2 separate regions of the Homo sapiens genome follow, and region 2 is linked to region 1. The links come from fine-mapping of genetic effects on gene expression. A gene starts in region 1. The other region holds a variant in brackets. All regions are shown on one strand. Distances are between the middles of the regions. Region 1 holds the start of CCM2 (CCM2 scaffold protein). Region 2 overlaps CCM2 (CCM2 scaffold protein).

What was found.
Region 2: its variant is fine-mapped to the expression of CCM2 in whole blood (TOPMed, PIP above 0.99).

The regions. Positions count from the first base shown.
Region 1 is chr7:44,991,506-45,007,731 of GRCh38, forward strand. CCM2 (CCM2 scaffold protein) reads left to right here and starts at 8,696. Exons shown (of 10, transcript NM_031443.4): 1 at 8,696-8,858. The coding sequence starts at 8,829. It overlaps LOC102723334 (a long non-coding RNA gene), which reads right to left and starts at 8,503. Exons shown (of 4, transcript XR_428139.4): 1 at 8,213-8,503; 2 at 7,775-7,868; 3 at 3,524-3,639; 4 at 189-1,344. RefSeq lists enhancers at 3,425-3,474, 3,555-3,604, 3,645-3,704, 3,725-3,774 and silencers at 7,963-8,012, 8,643-9,172.
Region 2 is chr7:45,020,160-45,036,385 of GRCh38, forward strand. All of the region lies in intron 1 of CCM2 (CCM2 scaffold protein), which reads left to right. Among named protein-coding and RNA genes, the nearest start is that of CCM2, 28 kb to the left of the region's middle. RefSeq lists a silencer at 6,938-7,007 and enhancers at 7,398-7,447, 8,050-8,119. The variant G/C (reference allele first, on the strand shown) is at 7,509.

The sequences.
Region 1 (16,226 bases):
ACGCTGGTCTTGAACTCCTGACCTTGTGATCCACCTGCCTCGGCTTCCCAAAGTGCTGGGATTACAAGTGTCAGCCACTGCGCCTGGCCCTAATTTTTTAATTTTTTATTTCGTAGAGATGGGCTCCTGTCATGTTGCCCAGGCTGATCTCCAGCTCCTGGGTTCAAGCAATCCTCTTGCCTTGGCCTCCCAAGATGTTGGGATTATAGGCGGGAGCCACCATGCCCAGCTCAAAAGATTAACAGGAGAAAAACAAATGGAGCTATATTAACATGTATACTTTGCATATACATGTGAGATGCCCAAGAAAATGAGTAATTCTCAAAGGAGTGGCTTAGAATTCAGGTTTAAGTACCATCTTCAGCTAAAAACAAAGAAGGGAGTGAGGAAGGCCAGTTTTGGGAAAAAGACCCGGAGAAGCACACAAAACAAGTTGCTGCCTTCTCCATTGATAAGGGTCTCTGGTGATTTAGAGTCAACTTTCTCTTCCTGGTACAGAGAGGGAGACACCCTTACAAAGAGCGATTTCTTTTAAGACTGTGAGTTTCTCTTTTTTTTTTTTTAGTATTTATTGATCATTCTTGGGTGTTTCTCAGAGAGGGGGATTTGGCAGGGTCATAGGACAATAGTGGAGGGAAGGTCAGCAGATAAACATGTGAACAAGGGTCTCTGGTTTTCCTAGGCAGAGGACCCTGCGGCCTTCCGGTGTTTGTGTCCCTGGGTACTTGAGATTAGGGAGTGGTGATGACTCTTAACGAGCATGCTGCCTTCAAGCATCTGTTTAACAAAGCACATCTTGCACCGCCCTTAATCCATTTAACCCTGAGTGGACACAGCACATGTTTCAGAGAGCATGGGGCTGAGGGTAAGGTTATAGATTAACAGCATCCCAAGGCAGAAGAATTTTTCTTAGTACATAACAAAATGGAGTCTCCTGTGTCTACTTCTCTCCACACAGACACAGCAACAATCTGATCTCTCCTTCCTTTCCCCACATTTCCCCACTTTCTACTCGACAAAACCGCCATCGTCATCATGGCCCGTTCTCAATGAGCTGTTGGGCACACCTCCCAGACGGCCTGGCGGCCGGGCAGAGGGGCTCCTCACTTCCCAGACGGGGCGGCTGCCGGGCGGAGGGGCTCCTCACTTCTCAGACGGGGCGGCTGGGCAGAGACGCTCCTCACTTCCCAGACGGGGTGGTGGCCGGGGTGAATTTCTCTTTCAAAGGGGTAGCTTATGCTGTTTTCATAGCTTCTGTTTCTCAAAATTACTAGCTCAGAATAATCCTTAGGCCAAGGAGGCATATTTTGGGGTGGCATATTCTGGTCTCCTACAGATGTATGCCTGAAAAGAAAATTAGCAATTTGGCTCTAGAAGAATAAACAGTGTTAGCTAATGAGATGTCAAAATGGAACTTGCAAGGTTGCTTCCGTTGGGGGCCACACAGTGTGGCTGTATTTCTGAGGGGTCATTCTGATCCAGAGTTGATTTGGTCCTTCATGATTTATAGGCCTGGAAACTGGATATTAAAATTCACTGATAGTTCACTCTAATCAACTCTGAAGTGTCTTTCCTTCACTAATGAAGTCTATATGGTTTTATCATGTGCACAACAGTCAAAGTGTTGCATGTCATACGTCAAAGAATAACTCAGAGAAGGCCAGGCGCGGTGGTTCATGCCTGTAATCCCAACACTTTGGGATGCCAAGGCGGGTGGATCATGAATGAGGTCAGGAGTTCGAGACCAGCCAGGCCAATATGATGAAACCCTGTCTCTACTAAAAATACAAAAATTAGCAGGGCGTGGTGGCACACGCCTGTAGTCCCAGCTACTCGGGAGGCTGAGGCAGAAGAATCGCTTGAACCCAGGAGGCAGAGGTTGCAGTGAGCCAAGATTGTGCTACTGCACTCCAGCCTGGGCCACAGAGCGAGACTCTGTCTCAAAACAAACAAACAGAAATCAGAGACATCTAGTTAGTTATTTGCAAGCCAGTTCTCATATGAGGGAGACAACTGATAGACTCAAGGACAGATGGCTGAGAGGCACAATAAGAAAACAACTGCAGTCAGTTTCGAGACCAGTGAAAAGATTCACTTAAAAAAATTGGCTGGTTGGCTGGCTGCAGTGGCTCACACCTGTGATCCCGACACTCTGGGAGGCCGAGGCTGCTGGATCACCTGAGGTCAGGAGTTTGAGACCAACCTGGCCAACATGGTGATGGTGAAACCCTGTCTCTACTAAAAATACAAAAATTGGCTGGGTGTGGTGGTGCATGCCTGTAATCCTAGCTACTCGGGAGGCTGAGGCAGGAGTCACTTGAACCCAGGAGGTGGAGGTTGCGGTGAGCCAAGATCATGCCACTGCACTCCAGCCTGGGCAATAGAGCAAGACTCTGTCTCAAAAAAGAAAAAAAATTGGCTGGAAGGCTGGGCACAGTGGCTCATGCCTGTAATCCCAGCACTTTGGGAGGCCAAGACAGATGGATTGCATGAGTCCATGCGTTCAAGACCAGCCTGGGCAACATGGTGAAACCCTGTCTCTACAAAAAATACAAAAATTAGCCAGTGTGGTGGTGTGCATCTGTAGTCCCAGCTACTTGGGAGACTGAGGTGGGAGGATAGCTGGAGCCTGGGAGGTTGAGGGTGCAGTGAGTTGAGATGGTTCCACTGCATTCTAGCCTGGGTGACAGAGTGAGACCCTGTCTCAAAAAAAAAAAAAAAATTGGCTGAAATCTAGCAAAAATGCAAATCTGGGAACACTGTCTTTGAATAGGCCAATTAAGTGTAAATTTTCAGTGTTTAGGGGTTTTCTTAAAACCAGGGAAACATTACCTGAACAGGGCCTAGCTGGGAAGCATCTATGAGAAACTATGTTCAGGTAATGTTGCCAGTGCCCCTCCACCTCAGTCTGGCTCAGTGTACATAATTTCCCTTATTAGAGTTTATTTCAGATACAAGGAGGAATCCCACATAGTCCGTACCTTCAAAGGAGCTTATTCTAGTAGAGGAAATGTCCTAAACCTGGTTAACTCTAGCATCACAGACATACAGATACAGTTATCTGGAAACTGGAGGAGGGAAAAATTGCATCCAGAAATTTAGTGGAAGATGTGATTATTGAGCTGGGTCACAAAGCTCAACAGCCAAATTCACCAGCAGTCTAAAAGACTTGGGTTTAAGCCAGGCGCGGTGGCTCACACCTGTAACCCCAGCACTCTGGGAGGCCGAAGCAGGCAGATCACGAGGTCAAGAGATCAAAACCATCCTGGCCAACATGGTGAAACCCCGTCTCTACTAAAATACAAAAATCAGTTGGGCAAAAAGATTTGGGTTTATTAACCTACCATGACCAGGGAGAGCACCCCAGAGGAAGAAGGGCTGCTTCTCATTACGAGGGAATAGGAAGGGGACTTTGTAAGGTTTGGGCTGGCCCTGAGTAATTCTGAAGAGGGGACAAGGGGAAGTGAGTATCATGGCTATAAAGTTGCTTTCATGAAGTGTGGGCAGTTTAGTAATTGGGTACCTTGGTCGCTTTTGTTCAAGATGTAGGAGCCACACAACAGGCTGGGGAGGTTATTGGTAAGAAAGCAGTAATCATAAGTAGGTGGCTGTTAGGACACTTTACAGCCAAGGTGTGACCTGGAGAGAAAGAAAAGATTGTTTTATGTTATAATTGTCTCATTGGTGTCTGTTACGAGAGACTGAATATACAAATAGACAATGGCTGGACCATTTGTACAACTAGAACTCTGACTGACAACCTGCAGAAACCTCCTCAGGAAACCAATTCGTTATCTACAGCAACCAGCCCAGGAAACAAGCCTGCTGTAAGTCATACTTGCAGGAAGCCAGGTGTTATCTCTAGTGACAATCCAGGAGTAACTTTTCTAACAGCCCCCAAAGCCTAGGACTTAATTAATAACTGGCACCCTATCTCTCACCAGATACAAAAATCAACTCAAAATGGATTAAAGACTTAAACATAAGACCTGAAACTACAAAACTACTAGAAGAAAACATAGGGGAAATGCTTCAAGACATTGAACGAGGCAAAGATTTTATGGCTAAAATTTCAAAAGCATAGGCAACAAAACCAAAAATAGACAAATGGGACTATATTAAGCGAAACTAAAAAGCTTCTGCACAGCAATGGAAACAATCAACTGAGTGAAAAGACAACCTTTAGAATGGGAGAAAATATTTGCAAACTATTCATGCGGCAAGGGACTAATATCCAGAATATACAAGGAACTCAAACAACTTGACAGCAAAAAACCACAAATAATCCATTAAAAAGTGGGCGAAGAATCTGAGTAGACATTTCTCAAAAGAAGATGTACAAAAAACAAATAGGTACATATAAAAAAATACTCAATATCATGAGTCATCAGGGAAATGCAAATCAAAACCACAATGAGATACCATTTCACCCCATTTAGAATGGTTATTATCAAAAAGGCAAAAAATAAGGGTGTTGGCGCACCTGCAGTCCCAGCTACTTAGGAGGCTGAGGTGGGAGGATCCATTGAGCCCAGGAGCCCAGCTCCTTAGCTCAAGCTGCGGTGAGCTAAGATCATGCCACTGCACTCCAGCCTGGGTAACAGAGGGAAGCCCTGTCTCTAAAAAAAAAAAAAAGACAAAAAATAAGGTTGAGCGTGGTGACTCAAGCCTATAATCCCAGCACTTTGGGAGGCTGAGGCGCGAGGATTGCTTGAGCCCAGGAATTTGAGAGCAGCCTGGGCAACATAGAGACCTCATCTCTACAAAAAGTAAAAAAATTAGCCAGGTGTGATAGCAGACACCTGTGGTTCCAGCTACTGGGGAGGCTGAGGTGGGAGGATCTCTTGAGTCTATGAGATCAAGGCTGTAGTGAGCAGTGATCATACCACTGCACTCCAGCCTGGGTGACAGAGTGAGACCTCATGTCAAAAAAAATTAGTATATATACACAATAGAATACTATTTGGCCATAGGAAAAAAAAATGAAAATGTCATTTGCAGCAACATAAATAGAGCTAGAGGTCACTATGTAAGCCTGTAATCCCAATACTTGGGAGGCTGAAGTGGGAGGATGGCTTGAACCTAGGAGTTGGAGACCAGCCTGGGCAACATAGTGACCTCATCCCTGTAAATTTTTTTTTAAACAAAAAAACAAAGACAAGTATTGCATTTACTCACTCATATGTGGGAGCTAAACAAATATTCATCTCATTGAGATAGAGACTGGGATGATAGCCACCAGAGGCTGGGAAGGGTGTGTGTTGGGGGAAAGTAGGGGGCTGAAGAGAGGTTGGTTAGCGTGTACAAACATACAGCTAAATAGAAGCAATAATTTCTCATGGGTGTGTGTGTGTGTGTGTGTGTGTGTGTGTGTGTGAGACAGATCTGGCTTGTTGCCCAGGCTGGAGTGCAGTGGTGCAATGACAGCTCACTGCAGCCTCGACCTCCTGGGCTCAAGGACCCCACTTCAGGCCCCTGAGTAGCTGGGACCACAGGTGCACACCACTATGCCCAGCTAATTTTTGTATTTTTTGTAGAAGAAGGATCTCACTATATTGCCCAGGCTGGTCTCCAATTCCTGGGTTCACGTGATCTTCCCAGCTTAGCCTCTCCAAGTGCTCGGATTACGGGTTTGAGCCACCACACCCAGCCTAAATTCTAATGTTCCATAGCAGAGTAAGATGACTATAGTTAATAACAATGTACTGTATATTTCAGAATAGCTAGGAGAGATCTGAAATGTCTCCAACACAAAGAAATAAGTGTTCAGGTGACGAATATCCTAAATACCCTGATTTTATTATTACACATCATATGCATGTATCAAAATATCACATGTATTTTGGCCGGGTGCAGTGGCTCATGCCTGTAATCTCAGCACTTTGGGAGGCTAAGGTGGACAGATCACATGAGGCCAGGAGTTCGAGACCAGCCTGGGCAACATGGTGAAACCCTGTCTCTACTAAAAATACAGAAATTAGCCGGGCGTGGTAGTGGGCACCTGTAATTCCAGCTACTCCGGAGGCAGGAGAATCGCTTGAAACTGGGGGGTGGATGTTGCAGTGAGCTGAGATTGCACCACTGCACTACAGCCTGGGCAATACAGAGTAAGACTCTGTCTCAAAAAAAAAAAAAAAAAAAAAATTAGCCTGGTGTGGTGGTGCATGCCTGTAATCCCAGCTACTTGGGAAGCTGAGGCAGGAGAATTGCTTGAACCTGGGAGGCAGAGGTTGCAGTGAGCTGAAATCATGCCACTGCACTCCAGCCTGGGTGACAGAGTGAGACTCTGCCTCACACACACACACAAATCACATGTACCTCATAAATATGTACAATTATTATGTGTTAGCTGGGTGCGATGGCTCATGCCTATAATCCCAGCACTTTGGGAGGCTGAGGAGGGAGGATTGCTTGAGCCTAGGAGTTTGAGACCAGCCTGGGCAACATAGTGTGACCTTGTCTCAACAAAAATATACTAAAATTAGCCAGGCTTGGTGATGCGTCCTTGTAGTCCCAGCTACTTGGGAGGCTGAGATGGGAGGATTGCTTGAGCCCAGGAGGTTGAAGCTTCAGTGAGCCATGACTGCATCACTGCACTCTAACCTGAAGGACAGAGTGAGACTTTATCTCTAAAAATACAAAAGAAACAAAAAATTATTTGTCAATTAAAAAAAAACTGGCAGCTTTCCTAGTTTTCGGTCCTGCTTCCAGCTTAGGAGCAACCAGAGAAAGACAAATATGTGCCCCTAACCAATCACTTGGGATGCCCTGCCCCTTGCTTCCCCAGGCCAACAGCCTCAAATGAGGACATCCCTGGAGGCTTCCCTTTTTTCACTATAAAGCTTACCCACTCCTCTGCCTGACATTGAGTCTCATCCAAATACAAATGATGGTGGCTGACTCCCTTGTTATAGCAAGCTAACAGCCTTTTTGCTTTTCTCATTTTATTGTCTTTATTCCCAGTTATCACCATCTGATCATTAGCCAGTGGACTTTTGCTTGAAGCATGAACCTGTGTATGCAAAGACAGGGCAAAGGTATTCTGATGGATAAGAACAGCCTGAGGAAGTCAGCACATCCAGAGTTAGGCTAAGAGAAGTTTTAGTAGTGTTGTTTACTGTATTATGGAGTGATAAATATGCATTTGTGGAAGACGGTGGAAGACTTTAAATATCAGGCCTTTGTTCTGTGAATGGTGGGAAAATAATGACAACCAGATGCGCTACATCATTTGCGTGTGTAAATGTGGCAAGCTGGATTATTGCAGAAGGCAGATTGAAAGGGTGTTTCCACTATCTCTGCTTTATCTTGCAGAGAATGGAATACTTATGCCTTTGGAGAGGTCTAGAGACCAAGTATTTCTTTTGAATATCAGTATAACATAGGCCCAGTCAGGAGACAGAAACACAGTAAAGAAAAGTTTAATATAAAGAATTATTAGGCCGGGCGCGGTGGCTCACGCCTGTAATCCCAGCACTTTGGGAGGCCGAGGTGGGCGGATCACCAGGTCAGGAGATCCAGACCATGGTGAAACCCCGTCTCTACTAAAAATACAAAAATTAGCCAGGTGTGGTGGCTGGCGCCTGTAGTCCCAGCTACTCGGGAGGCTGAGGCAGGAGAACGGCGTGAACCCGCGAGGCAGAGCTTGCAGTGAGCCGAGATCCACGCCACTGGCACTCCAGCCTGGGCGACAGAGCAAGGCTCCGTCTCAAAAAAAAAAAAAAACCACCAAAAAAACACAGTTTACATTCTAGCTGTGCTACAAAGTTCTTACCGGCAGATTGGTTTAGTGGCAAAATAGCAGACCTGCTGGTGACTCCAATTTGTAGTGTGCTTTTGGGCGAATCACCTCATTCCCCGGACCTCATCTGGAAAATGTGGAAATTATACCGGATGACTGGTAAGGTTCTACGATTTTATTCTGATAGGGTCTGCACATCCTTGTGGTTGCACTTCTATTTTCCAAATGTGTTTGTCTAAGGCAGGCAGACTTTATAACAGAGAAGTACTAGAAAACGGATTCCCTGTGGCTCAGGGAATAAAGTGGGACACAAGAAAAAAGAAAACCGCACCGCACCCAGACTCTCGGCGGGACGCCCCGCCCCTCAACAGTGGCCGCCTCCTCGCGCCCCTCCTTCGCCATCTGCCGGCCGCGTCCCCTCCCGCCGGCCCCCGTCCCCCGTCCCCCGCCCCCCGTCCCCTTTTCAGAGACCTGAGCTCCGCCTCCCTGGACGCGAGGCAGGCTGGGAAGTCGGCCGCCGTAAAGATGGCGGCAAATTGAAAAAGTTGGAGCTGCTCCCGCGCGCGCTCCCGCGCGCGCTGAGTGGGCGGAGCGAACAGGGGGCTGGACAGGTGCGTTCTCGCGGCCGTGCAGAAGCGAAGTAGGGGTAGGAGCGTTTCCGGCTCTCCTGAAGGACGCGGGGCGGGGTGGGGGTGGTGCAAGGCAGGCGCGTTCTCGGCCGTCCTGAAGGGGCAGGATCTTCAGCCTGTGGGCGGTGCTCTCGCCGTGAGCGGGGCCAACGGGCCGTGTTCTCCCTGAAGGGGCGGGGTCTGATCGCTGCGGGTCGGATTCCCTTGGGCCTGAAAGTGAGGATGAGCGACAACCGTGGGCGGGGCCTGCGCTGGGGAAGGTGGGGCCTGGGCGGGGCGGAGGGGGCTCGGGCCCGGAAGTGCGGGTGTGGGGCGCGGCCGGGGCGGAGACTTCGGGCCCGGCTGGCGGGCGGCGCCGGGAGCGCGGGGGCGGCGGGCCCGGGTCGAGCATGTAGCGGCTGCTGGCGGCGGGGCTCCCGGGGCGGGCCGGGCGGGCCGCGGGAGCCGCACGCGGCGATATGGAAGAGGAGGGCAAGAAGGGCAAGAAGGTGAGCGTGCGCGGGGGCGTCCTACTGCTGTGGTCGGCGGGCGGCTGGGTTGAGGGGCCAGGGTGGGGTGGGCGGGTGTTCCTTGGGGCCCGGGGGGGGGGGCAGTGGGCCAGCTGGCGGGGCGGGGCGGGGCAGGGCGAGACCCCGGACAATGGTCAGGTGGGCTTTCGCGGCCGGGCGGGCAGGAAGCGCCGCGCCTTTCCTCTGGCCCGGGCAGCGGCTCGCCCCGACCTCGGCCCCAGACGGCCTTCCCTGCGCGTCGGGACCTGGGGCTGCAGAGGAAGTGGGCCCGGCGAGGGGCCAGAAAGCTGTCCAGGGCTGGAACTGGAGCTAGTGGGCTGTGTGGTTAACGTGGAGACGTTTGCTGCTCACTGGACTTCGTTTTTGGATATCCAGTAAAAGCAAGGGTGGCCTTCACCTTATGGCCAGCTCACTCGTCCACTATCACTCAGACCTAAAACCATTGATTGATTTTAGTGACGCTAGCTACATTTGGCAGTGGGATTTAGGACATAGTTCATAGTCAAACCCCAGTTTATGTAGTTTTACAAAATGTGGCTTTAATTACAGTAAAGGGTTATAGTAGTCGATAAAGAAACATTTTAAGACTGGAAAAACGATGTGGATTGAACTACCATTAAAGTGGAAAATGGATTTTAATAAAATGTATCTTTTTCAAATAAATGCTTTATAATCTTCACGTCTTGGCTATCATTTTCTTTTTGATGTGTGTGTGCGCACTTTTATCCACAAGTTTAAAGCAGACCTCGATAATTCCTAACTATGATTTTACTACCCTGAACTCTGCAGGGAAGTGTCCTTTAATTGACAGCTACTCACCACCTTGTTTGACAGAGTGCCCCATTTAAAAGTCCTGTTTGAAATAGAATGTAGCCAGGTGGCCTTCAGGGAGTCCTGTGGTGCTGGTTCTCTACTTTCTCAACTCATTGTTTCATGTTAGCACCATGCATGTCTAATTTAGGTGCAGTATAATTTGCGGTTATCTACAAAGATGTTTTAAGTCTGGAAAATAGCTCAAGATAGTGATTCAGCCTGCAGGTGTTAGATTAGAGATGCGTGCTGCGCACAGAAGAGGGAGGAGCCAAGCAGTGTAAAAGGAGTTAGCTGGAAAGGAGAGGTGCTAACCCGGTGGCTGCTTAGTAGGGACCATCAGGCCCGAGTGTGGATGATGCTGAGCTTTGCGGAAAGTGAGCCATGTGCTCTGTGGAATGCCGGGATCCAAGAGCGCGCTAAGGACTGATGACCTCATTGTGCACCGCTTACAGGAGTACCTGGCCCATCTACCTGTGTGTGATAGGCAAGGATGGAATTGAGTGATTTTTTTTTCTAGAGCTGTCTATCAGCTTTGGTAGAAACATGAAACACCCAGCAAATAGGGAGAGAGAGAGAGAAGCAGTAAGACTGTTTTTGGGGTACAAGTGAAAAAACAGTAAAATTATCAAGAATTTTCCAGTTGGGTAATGAAAAAATTTAGGCATAAACAGGTTAATTATTAATTTCATTTTCTCACTAGAGGAGATAATCAGTTGTTATGTAGTTGCTTAAGCCAGGGGTTTTGTGTTTTTTCTGTATTCTGCCACTTGTCTTAGCTTGTTTCCTGTAGACAAGCCAGACAAGGAGCTTTGGGGCATGGATTCTTCTCCAGGTCATGACTTAACACTACCTCGTGTACTCTGCCAGTTGCAAGCTGGCAGAACCTTCCTGCTCAGCTACCACATTCAATGTGAGATCACCTCCAGTTTAATAACTTCGGTGGTTAAATCATTCTCATTAAGGTAAATTGCATTGCTCTAAACTTATACACAAATTCAGACATAAGTAGCAGAAGTGCTGACAATAGTTTTATGAAGGTACAGTTTGGACGCTTAAATTCTTCTAAGTTAGCTTCTTCAAAAAATGCAGAATTAGGCTGGGTATGGTAGCTACGCCTGTAATCCAGCACTTTGGGAGGCCAAGGCTCGATCACTTTAGCTCAGGAGTTCGAGACCAGCCTGGGCAACATGGCAAAACCCCATCTATACAAAAAATACAGAAATTAGCCAGGCGCGGCAGCGCTCGCCTATAGTCTCAGCTACTTGGGAGGCTGAGGCAGGAGGATCACCTGAGCTCAGGTGGGCCTTTTTTTTTTTTTTCTTTTTAATCTCAGACACTTGTCTTGGTGTCTGCCAAGCAGTGATTCAGGCTTTTTTTTACCTCGGCCCATTTTCCTCAGGACACAGGAATCAGTGAGTTGGCAGAGAACCTATGGACCAAAGTGAGTCTCACGGAAACTTGGCCCCAGTGTATCACTGCCCTTTCTCAAGTCACCTCAGCACATGTGGTGATGATGACTGTACACCTGGGTTTCCTCAAGTGGGCCATGGTTCGTTTAACAAATGTCTGTTGAGCCCCTCTTGTGTCCCATGAAACTCACTGGGTGATGGGGATACAGGAAGAGCTTGTGGCCCCCAGGAGCTGATGGGGAGATGGATCACTCATGGGTCCATCTGAAGGAATGAGTGCATTGACAGAAAAGTCCTCTGGCCACTAAAGGTGTGGGGCCTGGGGAGTAGAAGTGACCACTTGGGGCTGCTCTTCTGTCCTGATGTCTACAGAGTGTCTACTTTTTAGCCTACAAGTTCTGTTTTGGGGTTTGGAGAATAAGGCTCCTACCTACGGTATGGACTCATGTTCTGTGCATTGTGGCACTATGTAATTCCTTTTTTTTTGAGATAGAGTTTCGCTCTTGTTGCCCAGGCTGGAGTGCAATGGCACGATCTCAGCTCACTGCAACCTCCGCCTCCCGGGTTCAGGTGATTCTCTTGCCTCAGCCTCCCGAGTAGCTGGGATTACAGGCGTGTGCCATCATGCCCAGCTAATTTTTGTATTTTTAGTAGAGACGGGGTTTCTCCATGTTGGTCAGGCTAGTCTCAAACTCCGGATCTCAGGTGATCCACCCACCTTGGCCTCCCAAGGTGCTGGGTGGCTGAGCCACCGCACCTGACAGTAATTCCTTTTTATTAGAAACTTGGATGCACTTAAGTTGGGTTGTGTGGATTTTTATACTCAGATCACAGCCCAAAAAAGCTGTCTTGTCAGGGTTGGGTGTAGGTAATCCTAACACTTTGGGAGGCCGAAGCAGGCGGATCACTTGACACCAGGAGTTTGAGACCAGCCTGGCCAGCATGGTGAAACCCCGTCTCTACTAAAAATACAAAATTAGCTGGGCGTGGTGGCATGTGCCTATAATCCCAGTTAGGAGGCTGAGGCAGGAGAATCTCTTGAACCCGGGAGGTGGAGGTTGCAGTGAGCTGAGATCATGCCACTGTACTCCAGCCTGGGCAACAGGGCAAGACTCCATCTCCAAAAAAAAAAAAAAACCATCTTGTGGCCTTAACCTTGTGGGTCTCAGCTTCTCTGCTGCCTCTGGTCTTCGGTTGCCCCACCAGGTGGCTATGATTTCACACTGATCAAAGTTAAATATTTTTACATTCATCTAGTTTATTTGCATTGTTTAAGGTAGAAAAAGGTTATAGGTTGAGTGTAGTGGCTACGCCTGTAATCCCAGCACTTTGGGAGACTGAGGTGGGAGGATCACTTGAGCCTAGGAGTTTGAGATCAGCCTGGACAATGTAGTGAGACCCTATCTCTACAAAAAATAAGAAAATTAGCTGAGCATGGTGGTGCATGCCTGTAGTTCCAGCTACTTGGGATGCTGAGAAGGGAAGATCGCTTGAGCCCTGGAGGTCGAGGCTGCAGTGAGTGTGATTGTGCCACCACCTGAGTGACAGCAAGACCCTGTCTCAAGAAGAAAAAGAGAAAAAAAAGGTTATAAAGTTCCCTAGAAATGTAGGACTAGATATTAAATAATAAATAAGGAATTATTAATTTTGTTGGGTATGATAATTAAGTTCTGATCTGATAGGCATGTATTCTGAGATATTTGTAGGTGAAATAATATGATTTCTGGGATTTGCTTTACTCAAAATAGAAGAAACAAAGGGGATAGCTGAATGCTTTGGTAATGGTTATATATTGTTCTGTCTACTTTTATGTATTTTTGAGAATTTCCATAATAAAAAGTGGAGGGGAAAAGATCCTCTAGGTTACAGGCCCTGAACTATCAGCTGCTGTAGTCACTGCTGGACCAGTGTCTGTGAGGAACTGAAAGCTTGGATTGGACCAGTACCTTTTAAAATTTGGTCACTGCAGGCACCAGGAAGCCATACCTTCTCCATGCTGACCTGATGCAGACATAAATGTGTGTGTCTGTATAACCGAAGTGAAAGTTTAAAGGAACCACACTTAAACGCTCTGATTTTTTAATTCTATTTTTTTTTCTTTCTATTACAACTGGTGGTTGGCCAGGTGCGGTGGCTCACACTGGTAATCCCAGCACTTTGGGAGGCTGAGGTGGGTGGATCACCTGTCAGGAGTCTGAGACCAGCCATGGTGAAACCCCATCTCTACTAAAAATACAAAAATTAGCTGAGCGTGGTGGTGGGGCCTGTAATCCTAGCTACTTGTGAGGCTGAGGCAGGAGAATTGCTTGAACTCGGGAGATGGAGGTTGCAGTGAGCTGAGAATGTGCCATTGCGCTCCAGCCTGGGCGACAAGAGTAAGACTCCGTCTCAAAAAAAAAAAAAAGGCTCATGGTCATGACCCACTAAACCGATTCTATAACTGTCACAAGCCATACTTGGGTTCAGAAGGTGAATTGGGGCTGCTATATTTTGTTTTATTTTTCCTCTTGGGTAGCTATTGCAGTGATTCTTGGATGGCAACTTGGTAACTCAGGGTCAGGAGGCTGGAGAACCAGGCAGGAGGTGCTCAGCAGAGAACCTAAGGCAGCCAGTAGGTGAGGCCAGAATGATCGGCAACATAAGGCTGGTTACTTTTCTGTCTTGAAGAGTTACCATTTACATAGTATGTATTTGTTAATTTTCAACATATTGTCAGATTCTGTCATAATTTAGATTCAGAAAGCACATCAGAACCTTCCAGGGCTGCTCTGAGCATCCTTTCAGAGGAAGATAGTGTAAAGCAAAACGTTTCTCTTAGCAATATTATTGCAGTGAAGGGCTTCCCTGCAGACGAGAAGGGCGTCTGCAGTCTGCCCCACTGGGGCGCTTACTCTTGATCTTCCAGTTTTTTCATTTCCGTCAGCAGTGCCCCCTCCTTGTTGTCACTTTGCAGTGTAAGTAAATGGTCATGATTAAGTCCTATAAACCTAACTATTGAGCATTTAAATCACCCTCTATTGTTGGTTTACGTGGTGGCGATACAAGTTTTTAGTGAGATAACTTGGTCATGCCTTGCCTATTATGTGCTTAGCCCACTGAGAAGAGGGTTAGGGACATTGCACTTTGGAAAGTAGGTCACTTACACCTAAAATTAGAGACTAAAGGCAGACCTAGGATGTCAGAAGAGACATGGGGCAGGCAGCAGCCACTTCCAGCCAGGTTGAGACCGGGACTGTGTCCTGCAGTTCAGAAGCAGAGATGAGGTGGAGAGGACCCCCCAGTCCTGGGAAGTCCTTGGGCTGGGAAGTTGGGTGTTGGTTCTGTATGCACTTGAAGCCACTGGAGGTGTTCCACATCATGCATTCACTTGTCCATTAAACTATTGTTTATTAGCACCAATGGTGTCAGACACAGATGCTGGAGACTGAAATGTGTACGGTGAGCCTGTGGCTGCAGAGCAGGAAGTGGAGCCCGGGGATGGATGGTGGGAGCAGGCTTTGGTAAGAGTGATCAGGAACACCTTTATGAAAACTTCAAAAGCAAATGTAAAGAAAAAAAATCATGTAACGAAGTCCCCTGTGCCCATGTGTGGGCAGTCAGTTTCATGTGCACCTTCTCCTCATTCCTGCTTCCTGCCTGTGTGGGCCGAATAGTGTCCCCTCAGAGTCATGTGCTGAAGCCCCTACTTCCAGGACCTCAGGATGTGACTGTATTTGAAGATGGAGTCTTTTTTTTTTTATTTGTTTTTATTTTAGACGGAGTCTTGTTGCTCTGTCACCCAGGCTGGAGTGCAGTGGTGCAATCTTGGCTCGCTGCAAGCTCCGCCTCCCAGGTTCCCGCCATTCTCCTGCCTCGGCCTCCTGAGTAGCTAGGACTACAGGTGCCCGCCACCACACCTGGCTAATTTTTTTGTATTTTTGGTAGAGATGGGGTTTCACCGTATTAGCCAGGATGGTCTCAATCTCCTGACTCCGTGATCCACCCACCTCGGCCTCCCAAAGTGCTGGGATTATAGGCTTGAGCCACCATGCCTGGCCTGAAGATGGAGTCTTTAAGGAGGTGATTGAGGTAAAATGAGGTAATTGTGTGGGCCCTAATCCAATCTGATGGATGTCCTTATAGGAAGTTATTAGGACACAGAGAGGAATGATCATTGGAGGACTCATGGAGAAGGCAGCCATCTGCAAGCCAAGGAGAGACCTCAGGAGAAACCACCCTGCTAAATTTACCTTGATCTTGGACTTTCAGCATCTAGACTCTAAGAGAATAAGTTTCTATTATTGAAGCCACTCAAGTCTATAATACTTAGTCCTGGCAGCCCAAGAAGGCTAATGCACCAGGTGATTTTGAAGCAAACCCTAGAGTTCAGTTTGTAGATAGAAGTGCAGTAGTAACTCATCAAGACAGAAGAGTAACAAGCCTTATGTTGCTGGTCATTCTGGCCTCATCTGCTGGCTGCCTTAGGGTCTCTGGGGTGAGTTCTGAGGACCAAGTCTACACTGTCAACATGGCCACGGACGAGCTGCTCAGAGTGACAGGACAACCCTCACTGTGCTGTATGTAAACCATAAATCACAGCACACTCTTTGTGGTTGGGAGAACATGTATGGTGTTTTGGGAGCTGGCACAGTCAGGGATGTCATTCATTTCATCTGGGACAGGCTTTGTGCTCTGGGATCTGTGGCGGGAGCAGTGAGCCCAGCCATGTCCTCTGCATGCATCGCTGTGTCCTTGTGAACAGTGGATCTTTGTTAGCGCGCTTCGCACTCCTTGGCTTTTTTATCTTTCAATCAAGAACAGCAACTGCTCTTCAAATGATTCTACAGGTATGAGGGAGTTTACATTTGGATTTGTCAATGGAACCATTAGGATTTTTTGTTTGTTTGTTTTGTAAAAATAAGAACTTTTTTCCTTAGCCTTGTGTCTGTGCCAAAAATGTGACCTTTTTTTTTCTCCCAAGTGTGCCCAAACAGTAACAATTTTTTGCTTGGATTATGTTAAGAATTAGGGCATTTGACCATAGGCATTAGATGTATGTGCAATGAAAGTGATCCCCTTTAATAAGCATAATAGGAACATGGAATTTGGGCTTTTGTTTGCAGCTTAGGATGATGGTGTGTCTTGT
Region 2 (16,226 bases), 29 kb after region 1:
AATATAAAAGTGGATCTTGCCCAGTGATGTTCCCTTCTTTCAAGGGTCATATAAATTCCAAGCTTCTTTTTTATTTCTTGTTTGTCTCCAGTGTCTTTAGAAGATTGTTTTTCACATTTTATCTAGAGTTCATAATCTCGGTCTGTGAGAAAGTTATTTTGATACAGTCTACTTCTCTCTTAAGGGAATAAGAACTTCTTTGGGTTTATTTTTTCTTGACAGTGTGTTTTGGAGCTCTTTCATTATAGATATATAGTTTCTTTATTCTTCTTTAGGGTGGAATGGCATTTTTATCTGTGGGCTACTGTATTTAAACAGCAGCCCTCCTATGGACTTTTAGGTTGTCATTTTGCTTAAAAAATAATGAAGCAATTAATTTTCTAACCTGTCATGTATGTAATGCATCTGTAGGATTAATTCCCGAAAATGCACTTGCTGGGAAACATAAGTGCATTTGTAATTTTAGTAGATGTTAACAAATTGTTTTGTATGGTAGAACCAAGGTTTATTCTTTTTTTCTTTACCCACCTCTCAAGAGAACAGTTTTTATTAGGTGAAAGTGGTATTTGCTAAAAATTTTGAGTATTTTCCAAAATGAACTTGTTAAGTTTTCTTACTAAAAAATACATTTGTATCTCAGAAGAAAGTAGCAAAATATATTATATGAAAAAAATCACACCCACTAGAAACAACTGTTATTAGTCTTTCACGTTGCTTTCCTGTTTGTGTATGCTTTTCTGTGTTAGCAGTAATAATACAGTCTTATTACCTTGGTATTTATTTCAAACACTTGCTTAGTGCCCACTGTGTAAAGAGCTTTCTGGGGAGCTGTCACTGCCTGCCTGAATCTCCCTCACTGTCTGAGGGTGGTCTTAGTGCTCATGAGGTCGAGAATATCGAGTGCTGTGTCAGAAGGGCAGAGGTCAGGTGGATTTAAAGCTGTTGCACCAAAGCCAGGTGTGGCGACATGCCTGTAGTCCCAGCCTACTCATGAGGCTGAGGTGGGAGGATGGCTTGAGCCTAGGAGTTAGAGAATGCAGTGAGCCATGATTGTGCCACTGCACTGCAGCCTGGGTAATAGAGCAAGACCCTGTCTCTAAAAAATAAAAAAAATAATAAATAGGCTGGCACGGTGGCTCACGCCTGTAATCTCAGCACTTTGGGAGGCCGAGGCGGGCGGATCACCTGAGGTCAGGAGTTCAAGACCAGCCTGGCCAACATGGTAAAACCCCCGACTCTACTAAAAATACAAAAATTAGCCAGGCATGGTGACACATGCCTGTAATCCCAGCTACTCGGGAGGCTGAGACAGGGAGAATTGCTTGAACCCGGAAGGTAGAGTTGCAGTGAGCTGAGATCGCGCCACTGCACTCCAATCTGGGCGACAGAGCGAGGCTCTTTCTCAAAAAAAAAAAATAAAATAAAATAAATAATAAATAAATAAAACTATGCATCAAGCACCATCTCCCTGTCCCCTGGGTATGCCTTTGGAAGTGCAGTTTGCAGAGTGAGTGAGATGAGGCAGGGGAGTAGGAGGAGGAGCTGAGGAGGAGAATGGGGCAGGGGAAGATGAGACAGGGAGGAGGAGGAGGGGAGGAGAGGGGAAGGGATGAGAGAGGGAAGGAAGGTGGAGTCATTGTTCCTGCTGTTGCCTTGCGTGGCTGTGACAGCTGTTGAAGCTGTCTTCTCACAGTTTTGCACACTGTGGGTTATGATTCATTAGTGGCATGTGAAATCAACCATGTAGGTAGCAACCTTTTTTTCATGTAAGAATTTAAAGGATACAAGTATAAAGTTAAAGAACTTAAGGAAAAATTTTGCTAGATTCATTTTGAATTAGAGCTGTCACGTATTTCTTAGCTATCTGCATGGAAAACACCTAGAAGCAATGACAGTCCAATAGCAGTGGAGCACACCTAGGACTTTATTGTAGTCTGAATTGTATGTCAAGTAGTGTGGTTACAGTAAGTGAGGGGATGTAGCTTTTTGCCACAAAATCTGTACTTTGGAAGGTGAATGTGAAGCAATGAGAACAAATGGAGATTATTAATCTGTGCTGTGGTTGGCGTTCAGAATTAGGCCACATTTTAGTATGTTTCATGTGGGGATCATTATTTTTTTTTGGACCAGCTTTTTTTTTTTTTTTTTTTTTTTTTTTTTGAGATGGAGTCTTGCTCTGTTGCCCAGGCTAGAGTGGAGTGCAGTGGTGCGATCTCGGTTCACTGCAAACTCCGCCTCCCGGGTTCACGCCATTCTCCTGTCTCAGCCTCCCGAGTAGCTGGGACTACAGGCGCCCACCACCGTGCCCGGCTAATTTTTTGTATTTTTAGTAGAGACGGGGTTTCACCGTGTTAGCCAGGATGGTCTCCATCTCCTGACCTCGTCATCCGCCCGCCTCGGCCTCCCAAAGTGCTGGGATTACAGGCATGAGCCACCGTGCCTGGCCTTTTCTTTAGAGTTTCTGATGAATTGCTTTTCTTTTTTCTTTCAAAAGAAACATTAAATTTTAAAAAATTTCAGTAGCTTTTGGGGTACAAGTGGTTTTTGGTTACATGGGTGAATTGTATAGTGATGAAGTCTGGCTTTTATTTTATTTTTTGAGACGGAGTCTCATTCTGTTGGCCAGGCTGGAGTGCAGTGGTGCGATCTCGGCTCACTGCAACCTCTGCCTCCCGACCTCAAGCGATTCTCCTACCTCAGCCTCTCGAGTAGCTGGGATTACAGGTGCCCACCACCACGCCTGGCTAATTTTTATATTTTTAGTAGAGACGGGGTTTCACCATGTTGACCAGGTTGGTCTCGAACTCCTGAGCTCAAGTGATCCACCAGCCTCGGCCTCCCAAAGTGCTGGGATTACAGGCATGAGCCACCTCACCCTGCAAGTCTGGGCTTTTAGTGTACCCATCACCCAAAAAGCGTACATTGTATCCAGTAGGTAATTTTTCATCTCTCACCTCCCTCCCACTTTCTCCCTTTCTAAGTCTCCAGTGTCCATTATATCACTCTGTGTGCCTTTGTGTAGCCATAGTTTAGCTCCCACTTATAAGTGAGAGAACCATGCCCGGCCCAGACTTCTTTTTTTAAATGTTCTAATAAAACTTTATTTACGGCTGGGTGCAGTGGCTCACACCTGTAATCCCAGCACTTTGGGAGGCTGAGGAGGGTGGATCACCTGAGGTCAGGAGTTCGAGACCAGCCTGGCCAACATGGCGAAGCCCCATCTCTACTAAAAATACAAAAATTAGCCGGGTGTGGTGTTGCGCGTCTGTAATCCCAGTTACTTGGAAGCCTGAGGCGGGAGAATCGCTTGAACTTGGGAGGTGGAGGTTGCAGTGAGCTGAGATCGTGCCACTGGACTCCAGCCTGGATGACAGAGTGAGACTCCGTCTCAAAAAACAAAACTAACAAAAACAACAACAAAACACAAGAAAACCCCACTTTATTTACAAAAACAGGTGGCTTGCCTGTGTGGTAGAGTTTACTCAGCCTTTTTCTAGAGAATGCCTTGTTATTGTGAATGAGATTCAGTTTTATTATGGTAGGCAGTGAGATTACTGGGAAATCTTTTTTTTTTTTTTTTTGTCGTGTGCATCTTTGTTTAGTCATTATTTTGATAGCTCTGTATCAGTTTTTTTTTTTTTTTTTTTTTTTTTTTTTTTTTTTTTTATGAGACAGAGTTTTGCTCTTGTTGCCCAGGCTGGAGTGCAATGGCACAATCTTGGCTCACTGCAACCTCTGCCTCCCAGGTTCAAGTGATCCTCCTGCCTCAGTCTCCGTAGTAGCTGGGGTTACAGACATGTGCCACCACGCCCTGCTAATTTTGTATTTTTAGTAGAGTTGGGGGTTTCTCCATGCTGGTCAGGCTGGTCTCGAATTCCCGACATCAGGTGATCCTCCTGCCTTGGCCTCCCAAAGTGCTGGGATTACAGGCATGAGCCACCGCACCCGGCCTCTGTATCAGTTTTGAATTTAGTTCTGGGTGTTTTCCTTACACCTAAAGTGTGGACTTTTTGGATTTCTACTGAGTAGCCAGTTCAGCAAAGTCTCTTCAGCTGATTATAATGTTCAGGAAAGACTCTTCAGCTGATAATAACTTCTGGCATCACCATTCAGCAGTCAGTCAAACATTAAATGATTACCTGTAGGCATTGTGGAGTTTCATCTCTGCATGTCCAGGCCAGCCCTTAGTCAAGGCCCAAGAAACATGTTTTTATCGTCAAGAACTTCTAGGCTCTTAGTTTACATAATGGAATCTTACAGATTTTCCTTTGTTTGCTTGCTGAACACTGTCATTGTCACCCTGGGATTTCTTTTCTCTGCTTCCTGGGTTGGTTCCACTGTTTCTTGGAGTCCACATCTTTTTCTCTCTTGGATGATCCTCGTTTTGCTGGGAGTAGATCCTCTAGTATGTTTTTCAAAAGGGGGTTTTTAGAGTGTAAAGATCCCAAGGCACTGCAGGTGTGAAAATAACTATTTTGCACCTTGATTGACAGTTTGGTTTTAAATTAACTTCCAGATTTAAATTAATTTCCACACAGAATTTTAAAGGGATTACCATATTCCCATTTATCAGGATACATCTGATGCTGATCTGAGTCTTACTGCTTTTACAGGTACTTTTTTTTGCATTTTCTTATTGGAAACCTAAGATTCTCTTGAAATTCTGCAGTTTTGTGAAGATGAGTCTAAATGTTGAGGGTTTGTCTCTTACATTCAGCCTACTTGTTACTGTGCTTTTTCTGTCCATAAAATTGAGTTCATCGTTGTTGTCTTCTGATATTTGTGTCCCTCTTTGATTCTGCCTGCTCTTATTCTCCTCTTAGGAAACTGTTAGACTCGATGGACCCAGCTTCTGTGGCCTTTAATTTTTCTCATGTTAAACTTTTTACCTTTTCACTTTATGTTCTAAGACAGGGTTGGCAAACTTCATGTAAAGGACCAGACAGTAAATATTTCAGGCTGTGTGGGCCAGGGGGCAAAATTGAGGCCATTAAGTAGGTACTTATATAAGAGAGAAAGCAAATTTTCGTAAATTTTTTTATTGATGAAATTCAAGGTATAATAATTGAGTACAATTTTTTGTAATATGGTTCTACTACTGAGAATGGAATTCTTTTTGGGGGCTAACATTTTGCTTAATCAGGGTTCAAAGTTGGTGATTCCCTTTATCGAATTGGTGGCAAATGTTCATCTGTAAAACATTTGCAGCTGTGGCCATCAGCAGCAGGCAGGCATTGGCCAACCCCGCAGTTCTCCTTCACATCATTCTTTGGGCTCTCCGCTATGTCCTTGTTATTATTCTACGAATTTTTTATTTTGGCAGTCATATTTGTAATTTCTAAGATATATTTCTTGTTCTCTGTTCTCTCTTTTTCTTTTTTTTTTTTTTTTGAGATGGAGTTTCACTCTTGTTGCCCAGGCTGGAGTGCAATGGCGTGATCTCACCTCACCGCAACCTCCGCCTCCTGGGTTCAAGTGATTCTCGTGCTTCAGCCTCCCGAATAGCTGGGATTAACAGGCATGCGCCATCACGCCCAGCTAATTTTGTGTTTTTGGTAGAGACGGGGTTTCTCCATATTGGTCAGTCTGGTCTCAAACTTCTAACCTCAGGTGATCTGCCCACCTCAGCCTTCCAAAACGCTGGGATTACAGGCGGGAGCCACTGCACCCGGCCGTTTTCTCTTTTTCATAGCTATCTAGTCTTATTTTATGGATGCAGTTCTTCTCAAGTGTCTCTAAGTATACTAGCTAGAATGTAGGTTCCTGTGCCTGTCTCTTCCCATTTGTTCTTTGGCTTTTCTCTCTCATGCTGACCGTGGGGATCACTGTGTTTGTGAGGGAAGGTTGGGGTTGACTAGTGTTCAGAGCATGTGGGTTTTCTTTTTAGTCATGTCTATTTCCCTGGAATCCTTCCCCTCCCTGCAGTAGCCAAAATAGAGGTGAGGCTGCTCAGCTGAGTGGCACCTCTTTCTGTATCTCCCTCCTGGTTTGCCTTTTTCCCTTTGAGCCTACCTGAAGGTCAGGGTCAGCTGGTTCTGCCCTGTATAGGCAACTTTTAGGAAGGAGCAATCTGAAATTGTGACTCTACTCTGGTTTTTAAAGACAGAAAGTGACAGTCCAGTTAATACCGGATATTGACTCAAATCTAGTTCTGATGCTGCTTTTCCAACTTTATGACAGTTTCTACATCTGTGGTATATGGAATAATAATTGAAGCACTAAATTTTATTCTGAAGCAATCAGTCTTTTTGGAATCAGGAAATATTAAACTTTATTTGTTACAGGTTAATGAAATAGAATTGTATGAAAGTACCATTTTTATAGCCAAAACACTGTTGAAAATCAGCACTTTGATTTGGTTCAACCTAATATTTAAAAAATTATATTGTAATTGTTATGTTTATTTATTGATCTGTGAATATAGTCACTCTAACCAGATTTTTTTTTTTTTTTTTTTTTTTGAGATGGAGTCTCACTCTGTTACCCAGGCTGGAGTGCAATGGTGCTATCTTTTCTTACTGGAACCTCTGCCTCCCAGGTTCAAGCGATTCTCCTGCCTCAGCCTCCCAAGTAGCTGGGATAACAGGTGCCCATCACCACGCCCGGCTAATTTTTCTACTTTCAGTAGAGACGGGGTTTCACCGTGTTGGCCAGGCTGGTGTCGAACTTCTTACCTCAGGTGATCCACCTGCCTCAGCCTTCTAAAGTGCTGGGATTACAGACATGAGCCACCGCACCCAGCCAACCAGAATATTTAATTAAGTAGCCCTCCCTATTTGCAAGCCATTCTGGAATTATCAGAGTTCTAAGAGCCTTCACCAGCAACAGATCCAACTTCTGCTTTTCTAGATTAGGAAATTTGCCTTGAAGAAGTGAGCTTGGCCAGAGGCACGCTGTTTAATTTCAAAGTGCTGCTGACTCAAACTCATGAGTCCTGGAGGCAGGTAGAGGCACTTGTAGGCTGAGGACCCGTAGAGCCCGGTGTGCCCTGCCCAAGCCCCACCTGGGAATGGAGTTATCTCTGTAAAGATCTTGCTGCCTTTGAGCAAGCACTGCAAATGGGGTAACTGGAACAGCCTTGTCGCGTGTTTCCACCCTTCGTATGAGGCAGGTACCATGGGTCTTCACCAACAGCACGGCCTGTTGTCTCCAGGAAATGGTAGCCCCTCACAGTGCTTTCTGTCTGCTTGTTTAGCTTTGGCATTTGAATGTGCAGAATGGTGGACTTTGAAATTAATGTCCTTCTGTTGACTGCAGAATTTCTGCTGGAAATGCAGGGAGGCTGCTTGTGGGGTTCGCGTGCTGTGGGAAGTAGGGAAAATGAGCTGGTTTACTTTGTGTCTTTTTGTGCATGCAGACTGTTTGGATTTTGCCAACAGTTTCTGGGTGCTGCCTGCTTTTTAAACTTTTAAAAAATTGTAAACAGCTTCAGTGGCTTTGCAGAAGGAAGCTGTGGTTTCTGGTCTTCCTGTTCAGTCATGTTTTTTTCAGAGGGAGGGCTAACATCT[G/C]GCCATATTTTTCAACAAATTCAGAAGTGAGTAGAGAATGCATAGTAGCTGTCGGCAGAGGAGGAACCAGAATCTCTCCAAAGAAATTCCTCAAACAGAATTTCACACAGGGTATTCCATGGAGAATGAGGTAGGTGCAAGTCCAGTGTGGAAAGCGCCATTTAGAATGATGATGGTGTGAGTCCCTTGTGGGTGGCTTTCATGGCTGCTTCCCAGGGCTTGCCCATTGTGAGCTAGGGTAGCCCAGTCTCCATGACCCCTGCTTTGGGAGGATGGGGTGGGTGGAGGGTTCATTTGCTGGCTTCCTGGTCTGAGACCCTGTGGCAAGGGGCGTGTATGGAGAAGTGCCGTTCCACCCAGGTGGGGAGTATAGGTTGTTGGATTCATCCATCTTGACTCAAGGAAGAAGAAGCCACAGGTTTTACATCTTCCACGGAGAAGTAATTTTCCTATGGATTTGTGGTCGGGACCCAAGAGCCTGGTTGAAAAATGATGTAGGGAGATGGCCAAGCAAGAGAGCACCCAAAGCTGGAATTTCATCCACGAAGCCTGCAACACTAGTGGGGTTCTGCTTGAGACTCCACCAGCATGGATCCTGGCCACCGCCAGTGTGGCCTCCTGTGGGCACTAAGGTGCCTATGCCTTTCTCACTGAAGCAAACAGGCGGTAGTGGGCAGAGCTCTGGTTCCCCTTGAAATTCGCTCTGTCAGCCGGGTACAGTGGCTTATGCCTGTAATCCTAGCACTTTGGGAGGTGGAGGTGGGTGGATCAGGAGGTCAGGAGATCAAGACCATTCTGACTAACATGGTGAAACCCCGTCTATACTAAAAATACAAAAAAATTGCCGGGTGTGGCGGCACGCACCTGTAATCCCAGCTATTTGGGAGGCTGAGGCAGGAGAATCACTTGAACCCGGGAGGTGGAGGTTGCAGTCAGCCGAGATTGCGCCACTGCACTCCAGCCTGGGTGACAGAGTGAAACTCCGGCTCAAAAAAAAAGAAAAGAAAGAAATTAGCCGTGTCCTGAGATGCGGGTGCACACCGGCTGTGTCATACTTATCATTTAGACCTCTCCAGCACCGAGGAAAGGTCCTTTTTCCATTGGTAGGCACCAAAGCACTTAAAAAAAAAAAAAGCTAATCTGTCAACTGACACTGCAGGGAGTGCTGGAAGTTTGTGGAAATTCACATAGGCAGGGGTGCAATGTGGGTGTCCACAGAGGAGTTCTTTGTCATGGAGCTTGTAGGAGGGGATTTGTCGTAGTGCCTCGGATGTGCACCTTAGGCAGTGTGATTTATGAGGATGGCAGGTGTCTCTCTGGGACTATAGCCTATCACTGTCCAGCTGGACAGAATCATCGCTCCAGGTTCCACTGTCTTCTCAGACCCAGGCACTGAGTTTGGTGCCTCTTCCAGTCATTTTCCCTCATTCCTGCTGGGCCCTCATGTGGCTGTGCAGTTGCGGTTTGTCTGTCTCCCTCTTTAGACTGGGGGTTCCCTGGGGGCAGGGACGGTGGCTTCTACAGCCCCAGTGTCTGGCGCATAGTGAATACTCATGAGATGTACTGAATGTTGGCCTTAAGGATACCTAGGCCTTTTTATAATACTTTAAACATCTTTGTTCAGAGGCGGTTTTGTTTTATTAGATAAAACCCACCTTGTAGTTTATTCATAAGGGTTAAATAATTTGCGCAAATGAAAATGCCTGAACCCTGTAGCAGAGACATGCTGGGTACTGCTCAGTGTGACTAAGTGTTCTTCTCTTTCTTCCTTCATAGACTTTTTAGCACTTTCTCCAGAGTAATACTGAGCTCAATGTTTTGCATGGAGAATGCAGCTAGAAGGTATAGCCATACTATTTACTTTGGTCCCCAAGTAGAGGCCACTGTTTCATGAGTCTGCTTTTGCTGGTTCTTTTAGTGGATTCATTTCTCCTTGTAAATTAATAAACAGGTGCCCTGACTTATAAGTTAGTTTCTGAGAATTTGTTGAGCAGATCCAGTTACTCCAGATCCTGTTCACCCAAGTGAGCTGATAATGTTGAGCTTCAGATTTAACAAAACTCAAGACCCGCAGTTGGCATCTGAGGGCCAGCCTTGCCCAGAGCCTGAGCCTTGGCTTTGTGTGAGGAGGGCATTCTCACTAGGTAAGCCCTAGTAGGCCAGATTTAGTTTTAGTTTTTTAACTCAGAAGTACATTTTAGGTTTCCAACTTTAAGAGTTGTTTTAAGCTTAAGACGTTAACTTTGTAAGAATTTGTAAGGATCTAGGCATCTTCCAGAGTGAGTTTAGAAAGTTCTGTATAGTTATCTGAGGTGGCATATATTCCATATGGATGTCTTTGCACAGCGCTGCATGGTGACTCAGAGCCCTGTGTTCCCTCCTCCTGGCTCCGTACTGTGGACTCTGGCAGGTCCCTTCGACCCTCACAGCCTCAGTTTCTTCAGGAGAGACTTAGGCTGGGATAGACTCCACACCTCACTTTGGTGCTGGGACTCCACTCATGGAAGAGAAATAGCACTTAGCCTGGTTTCCTTCTGGGGACTGAATTGGTCCTTTGGTCTCTGAGGTTCAAAGGTGACAAGATCATTTAGTGGTGATGAACAGGCATACTCAATCAAATACATGTTGAATGAAGAATGGTTGCCTGGGCTAATCCCACCTTTTAAATTCTATGTGTCCATCTATAGTACATTCTAGTGAGTTAAAGAACCCATGATGGTTTACTGGAATCCTGATTCTGTACATTAAAAATATGCTAAACCATTTAATTATTTCCCTCGTTCCTTCCAGACAGGGTCTCACTCTGTTTCCTAGGCTGGGTGCAGTGGTGTGATCACAACTCACTGCAGCCTCAACCTCCCAAGCTCAAGTGATCCTCCCACCTCAGCCTCCTGAGTGCCTGGAACTACAGGCTAATTTTTAATATTTTTTAGAGACAGGTCTCGCTATGTTGTCCAGGCTGGTCTTGAACTCCTGGCCTCAAGCGATCCTCTTGCTTTGGCCTCCCAAAGTGTTGGAATTACAGGTGTGAGCCACTGTGCCTGCCCTCAATTTATTTTATTTATTTTTTTCTTGAGACGGAGTCTCACTCTGTCACCCAGGCTGGAGTGCAGTGGCGTGATCTTGGCTTACTGCAACTGCTACCTCCCAGGTTCAAGCAATTCTCCTGCCTCAGCCTCCCGAGTAGCTGGGACTACAGGTGTGCACCACCATGCCCGGCTAATTTTTGTATTTTTAGTAGAGACGGGGTTTCACCATGTTGGCCAGGGTGGTCTTGAACATCTGACCTCAGGTGATCCACCTGCCTTAGCCTCCCAAAGTGGTGTGATTACAGGCGTGAGTCATTGCACCTGGCCTCGATTTATTTTTTAACTAGAACTTTCCTTTAAATTTATTTTCTTTCTTTTTTTAGATTTAAAGAGAACAGGGCCTTGCCCAGGTGCAGTGGCTTACACCTGTAATCCCAGCACTTTGGGAGGCCGAGGTGGGTAGATCACTTGAGGTCAGGAGTTTGAGACCAGCCTGGCCAACATGGTGAAACCCCATCTCTATAAAAATACAAAAATTAGCCAGGTGTGGTGGTGCACACCTGTAATCCCAGATACTCGGGAGGCTGAGGCAGGAGAATCGCTTGAGCCCGGGAGGTGGAGGTTGCAGTGAGCCGAGATCACACCACTGTACTCCAGCCTGGGCTGTATAGTGAGACTCCAGGTCAAAAAAAAAAAAAAAAAAAAGAGGGCCTTGCTTAGTCACTTAGGCTGGAGTGCAGCGGGCAGTCATAGCCCACTGCAGCTTTGAGCTCCTGGGTTCAAGTGATTCTCTCCCCCCAGTCTTTCAGGTAGCTAGGACTACAGACGTATGCCACCACGCTCAGCTTTTTTCTTTTTAATTAATAATTATTATTTGTTTTGAGATGGTCTTGCTCTGTCACCCAGGCTGGAGTGCAGTGGTGTGATCACAGCTCACTGCAGCCTTGACTTCCTAGGCTCAAGTGATCCTCCCACTTCAGCCTCCCAAGTAGCTGTGACTACAGGTGTGTGCCACCATGTCCTGCTAATTTTTATGTTCTAATTTTTGTATTTTTTTTAAAAGATGAGGTCTCACCCTGTTGCCCAGGCTGGTCTTGAAGTCCTGACTCTAGTGATCCTCCCATCTTGGCCTCCCAAAGTGTTGGGATTACAGGTGTGAGCCACTGCGCCCAGCCATCAGCTTAAATTTTGTGTTCAAAAGCAACTTCTTTTCCAAAAATCTGAGGTGGCTTCTTGTTCAGTTTTGTATCTGGAATAGCAGAGAGCTCTTCCCCAGCACCGGCTGTCCCTCCTACCACCCCCTGCAGCTGAGAGCTGAGCAAACATTACCTCTGAAAAGCCCCATCATCCTCAGCGAGAACAGCAGCTACCCTGCATTCCGTGCTGAATGGGTAGGAGTGGCAGAGGGAGGCTGCAGCAGATGTGCAAAGATGCATTTCTTTACTTAATAGTGTTAATATTCCACTTTCTAGGAAGGCTTACCCATCAATTAAAATTATTTGAGACATTAAAAAAAGAAACTTAGGGTAGCTGCTATTGAAGACTAAGGACTAGGGCCAGAGAGACGCCTGCCTCCAAGTAGTCCACAGAATCTGCTTGTTAAAATGTTCGTGATTTGGAGGCCCAGGTAGAAGGGGCAGGTTCCTCTGAAGCGCCTTGGCATGCCCTATCTTTGGCGTTCCGGGGTCGCCCTCCTCTGCTAGTCTGTGAGCAGTCAGAAGGTTGTATCTCCTGTTCATTCCTCTCCTTGTCTCTTGCTGCTCAGAACAGCAGCTTTAAGAACAGGGTGGCTGAGCCCTAAGTGTACCTTTGGAGCATCCTGTGTGTCTTCAGCATTGATTGACTGTTTTTACTGTGGATTTAATTTCAGTTACTTTACTCTGGTCTTACTACTTCGGCTTGACTGTGACATCGTTGAGGGCAGGGGCTGTGTCACCTCTAACCAAAGGGCCTCCCCAGATGCCTAGCCTGGTCCAAGCGTTCCATCAAGAGTCAGTACCAGCGTTTATTGCTGTCCAGTCTGTGCAAGCTCCATGCTGGCTGCTGGGTAAGAGCCAAGGGCAGCCAGGCCTAATGGCTCATGCCTGTAATTCCAGCACTTTGGGAGGCTGAGGCTGGTGGATCACCTGAGGCTGGGAGTTTGAGACCAGCCTGGCCAACATGTTGAAACCCCATCTCTACTAAAAATACTAAAATTAGCCAGGCATGGTGGTGGGTGCCTGTAATCCCAGCTACTCCAGAGGCTGAGGCAGGAGAATTGCTTGAACCGGGGAGGCAGAAGTTAAGTGAACCAAGATTATGCCATTGCACTCCATCCAGCCTTGGTGACAAGAGCAAAACTCCGTCTCAAAAAAAAAAAAAAAAAAAAAAAAAAAGAGCAAAGGCCAGAGGAGGAAAGAGCTGAGCTCGATGTAGGGAAGAATTGATGTGATGCTTGGGCAATAAGAGGCATCTACAGATGGCCGTCCTGGTTTCCTTGCCCTGCAAGAGTTCCTACTATTTCTCACTGCCTAACTGCAGAGGGTCTCTCTTTAGGGGTGGGATTGTAGGACGGGGGAGCGCCAGAGTCCTTCCCAGTGCAGACTGTAATTCTGTGTGGAGACTATAATTTTATGACCTGTACATCAACATTAAAATAACAGTGTAGGTTGCATGTGGTTTGTGGGACCTGTTGATTTGGTGTGGGCTTCTTGGTTAGAGGTTGATCTTGGCAAATCTCCTGTCTCAGAGTTGGTTTCCTGTTGCTCCCATAGGTAGATTAGTAACTAGTTTGGCTAACAGGCAGCTTTCAGAAGAGCCAACAAATGGAGCCAGGCTGCTTGCCCACACTGTCAGATTCAGAGCTCAGTCACTGTCCATGACACAGCTAGTTATCATTTAGGAGGAATGAGCTTTGGGGGCTAGCAGGCAGAAATGGTTTAGGGACAGCCATTTTCCTGTGGCTGATGTGAGATTATCCATGTCTGTGGAGATGCAAGCTTCCGAAAAGCTGGGCTCATGGGCCAAATGCCTCTGTATTTCCATAACCTCCAGGCCAGGGTCTTGCACATCATAGGGCCTGGGAGAATAAGTGAGTGGTCAAGCATACACATTTGAAAAGTAATTCATGTGCCATCTGTCACTTGAGAGTGCCAGAAGAGAGGAAATCACAGGCAAGCAAAGCCTGGTGTGTTTTTAGTGAGGCTAGAGAAACATGATTTTTTGCATGGCTAAAATTGCATCACTAAATTTTGAGGGCCGTTTTTAACTTACAGTTTACCATGATTTCTTGGCTGACAAATCATAGGTGACCATTTCTCACCATTCTCCCATGAGAACCCCGCACTGCAAACTACCTGTCATGTCCAAACTTGTCCTGGGGCTCAAAGCTTGTCAGGGATTAAGGAGAATGAAGCCCGAAAGTGCCTTAGGGACATCCTGTCTTCACTGCTGTCATAGAGCCAGGGCCTGGGCAGCACAAGGCCACATGCTTTCTGAGCCCAGGCCAGTCCCAGCAAGCTCTTATGGAAGCACTTTTTTTTTTTTTTGTTTTGAGACGGAGTCTCTCTCTTGTTGCCCAGGCTGGAGTGCAATGGTGTGATCTCAGCTCACTGCAACCTCTGCCTCCCGGATTCAAGCGATTCTCCTTTCTCAGCCTCCTGAGTAGCTGGGATTACAGGCATCTGCCACTACACCCAGCTAATTTTTGGTATTTTAAGTAGTGACGGGGTTTCACCATCTTGGCCAGGCTGGTCTCAAACTCTTGACCTCAAGTGATTTGCCAGTCTTGGCCTCCCAAAGTGCTGGGATTATAAGCATGTGCCACCATGCCTGGCCTTTTTTTTTTTTTTTTTTTTTTTGAGATGGAGTTTCACTCTTGTTGGCCAGGCTGGGGTGCAATAGCACAATCTCGGCTCACTGCAACCTCCGCTTCCCCGGTTCAAGCAATTCTCCTGCCTCAGCCTCCCAAGTAGCTGGGATTACAGGCGCCCGCCACCACACCCAGCTAATTTTTGTTATTTTTAGTAGAGACGGAGTTTCACCATCTTGGCCAGGCTGGTCTCTTAACTCCTGACCTCAAGTGATCTGCCTGCCTCACCCTCCCAAAGTGCTGGGATTACAGGTGTGAGCCACTGCACCCAGCTTCTGGAAGCATTTTTAAAAAGTTTTTATTTTTCTTGAGACAAGGTCTCACTCTGTTGCCCAGGCTGGAGTGCAATGGCATGATCACAGCTTACCGCAGCCTTGACCTACCGGGCTCAAGCAACCTCCTGCCTCAGCCTCCCAAGTAGCTGGTACTACATGCGTGAACCACCACACCTGGCTAATTTTTGTAGTTTTTGTAGAGATGGGGTCCCACCAGGTTGCCGGGCTGGTCTTGAATCCCTGAGCTCAACAATCTACCCACCTCGGCCTCCCAAAAGTGTTGGGATTATAGGCGTGAGCCGCTGCACCCAGCCTGGGAGCACTTTCTGTCCCCTCTGTGGTTCGTCTTAGAGCGGATCATCTTGTAAGGATGTTGGTGATCTTAATTTTTTATGCTTTTATATTTTGCCTCAGTTTAAGTGTAATCAGCAGGAAGCAGAAAATATATTCATCATTTTCAAAAAATATTTAAAAATTCAAATATTAAAAAAATACAGAGAAAAGTTAACAAAGCTACTGTATACATCATCTGGCTCCAACTGTTACCAACTCTGAGGACCTTTAGTCATCCTTACTCCATGCTCTCCCCTACCACCGGATGTACTGAGCAGCAGAGAATGGGACCTGGGAGGGGGCCTATTCCAGGTCAAAGGGGAGAGACTACTCCTGGTCAACGGGGAACTACTCTGGGTCTATGAGAGGACTAGTTCAGGTAGATGAGGGACTACTCCAGGTCAATGGGGAACCACTCTGGGTCAAGGGAAGACTATTCCAGGTCGGGCAAGGGGAGCTATTCCAGGTGAAGAAGGCGGATGCAGGGGTGGGTCCAGTCAGCCCAAGTGAGAGAGGAAGCATTTTAGCAGATTATAGGGCTTTAAGCCTGGGTCACAGGTGTGTCACCTGTTGGGGGCACGAATGAAGAGCTTAGGCTGTGATGCTGGTCCAACTTTATTATAGTCTGTGGTAGTGATGAGTAGGAGACAGTCTGATTATATACATATATACATATATATATATATGTATAGACAGCAGTGGAAGAAGAGATAAATTTTAACTTATTGTCAAGGTAAATACAGTCATAAAATTAACTGGTATATATTTTGCTTGTTCACAACATATCAGACGTGCTCAGAACTTTATGTAGATTATTGTATTGATTGCCTGTGGCACTTCTCTAAGGATTGTTAGCCTGTTGTGCAGATGGTGAGAGCTCATCCAACCAGTTTGCTTAGTAAGTGGTGCAGCCCAATGCATGCCGGAGCAGAGATCATGCCTAGGACCTGAGGAACATCTATCTTTACTGGTAGAAGAAAGAGAGCTGGCAAAGGGTGCGTGAGATGCAGGAAACACAGGGGACAGAGTGACAGAGGCGTGGTGGCAGCGTTAGTGCACTTCTCTGGAAGCAAGACTTTCTGTTGTGTTTTTTGTTTTCGTTTTTATTGAAAGAGCTTCCTGATTCCATGTCTGTTTTAGTGGGTGAATGGAATAAAAACCCAGCTATGAAAGGGTGAAATAAATAAAGGTAAGAAGGAAGCTGAGGAGCAGAAAGCTCAGCCTTGGCTGT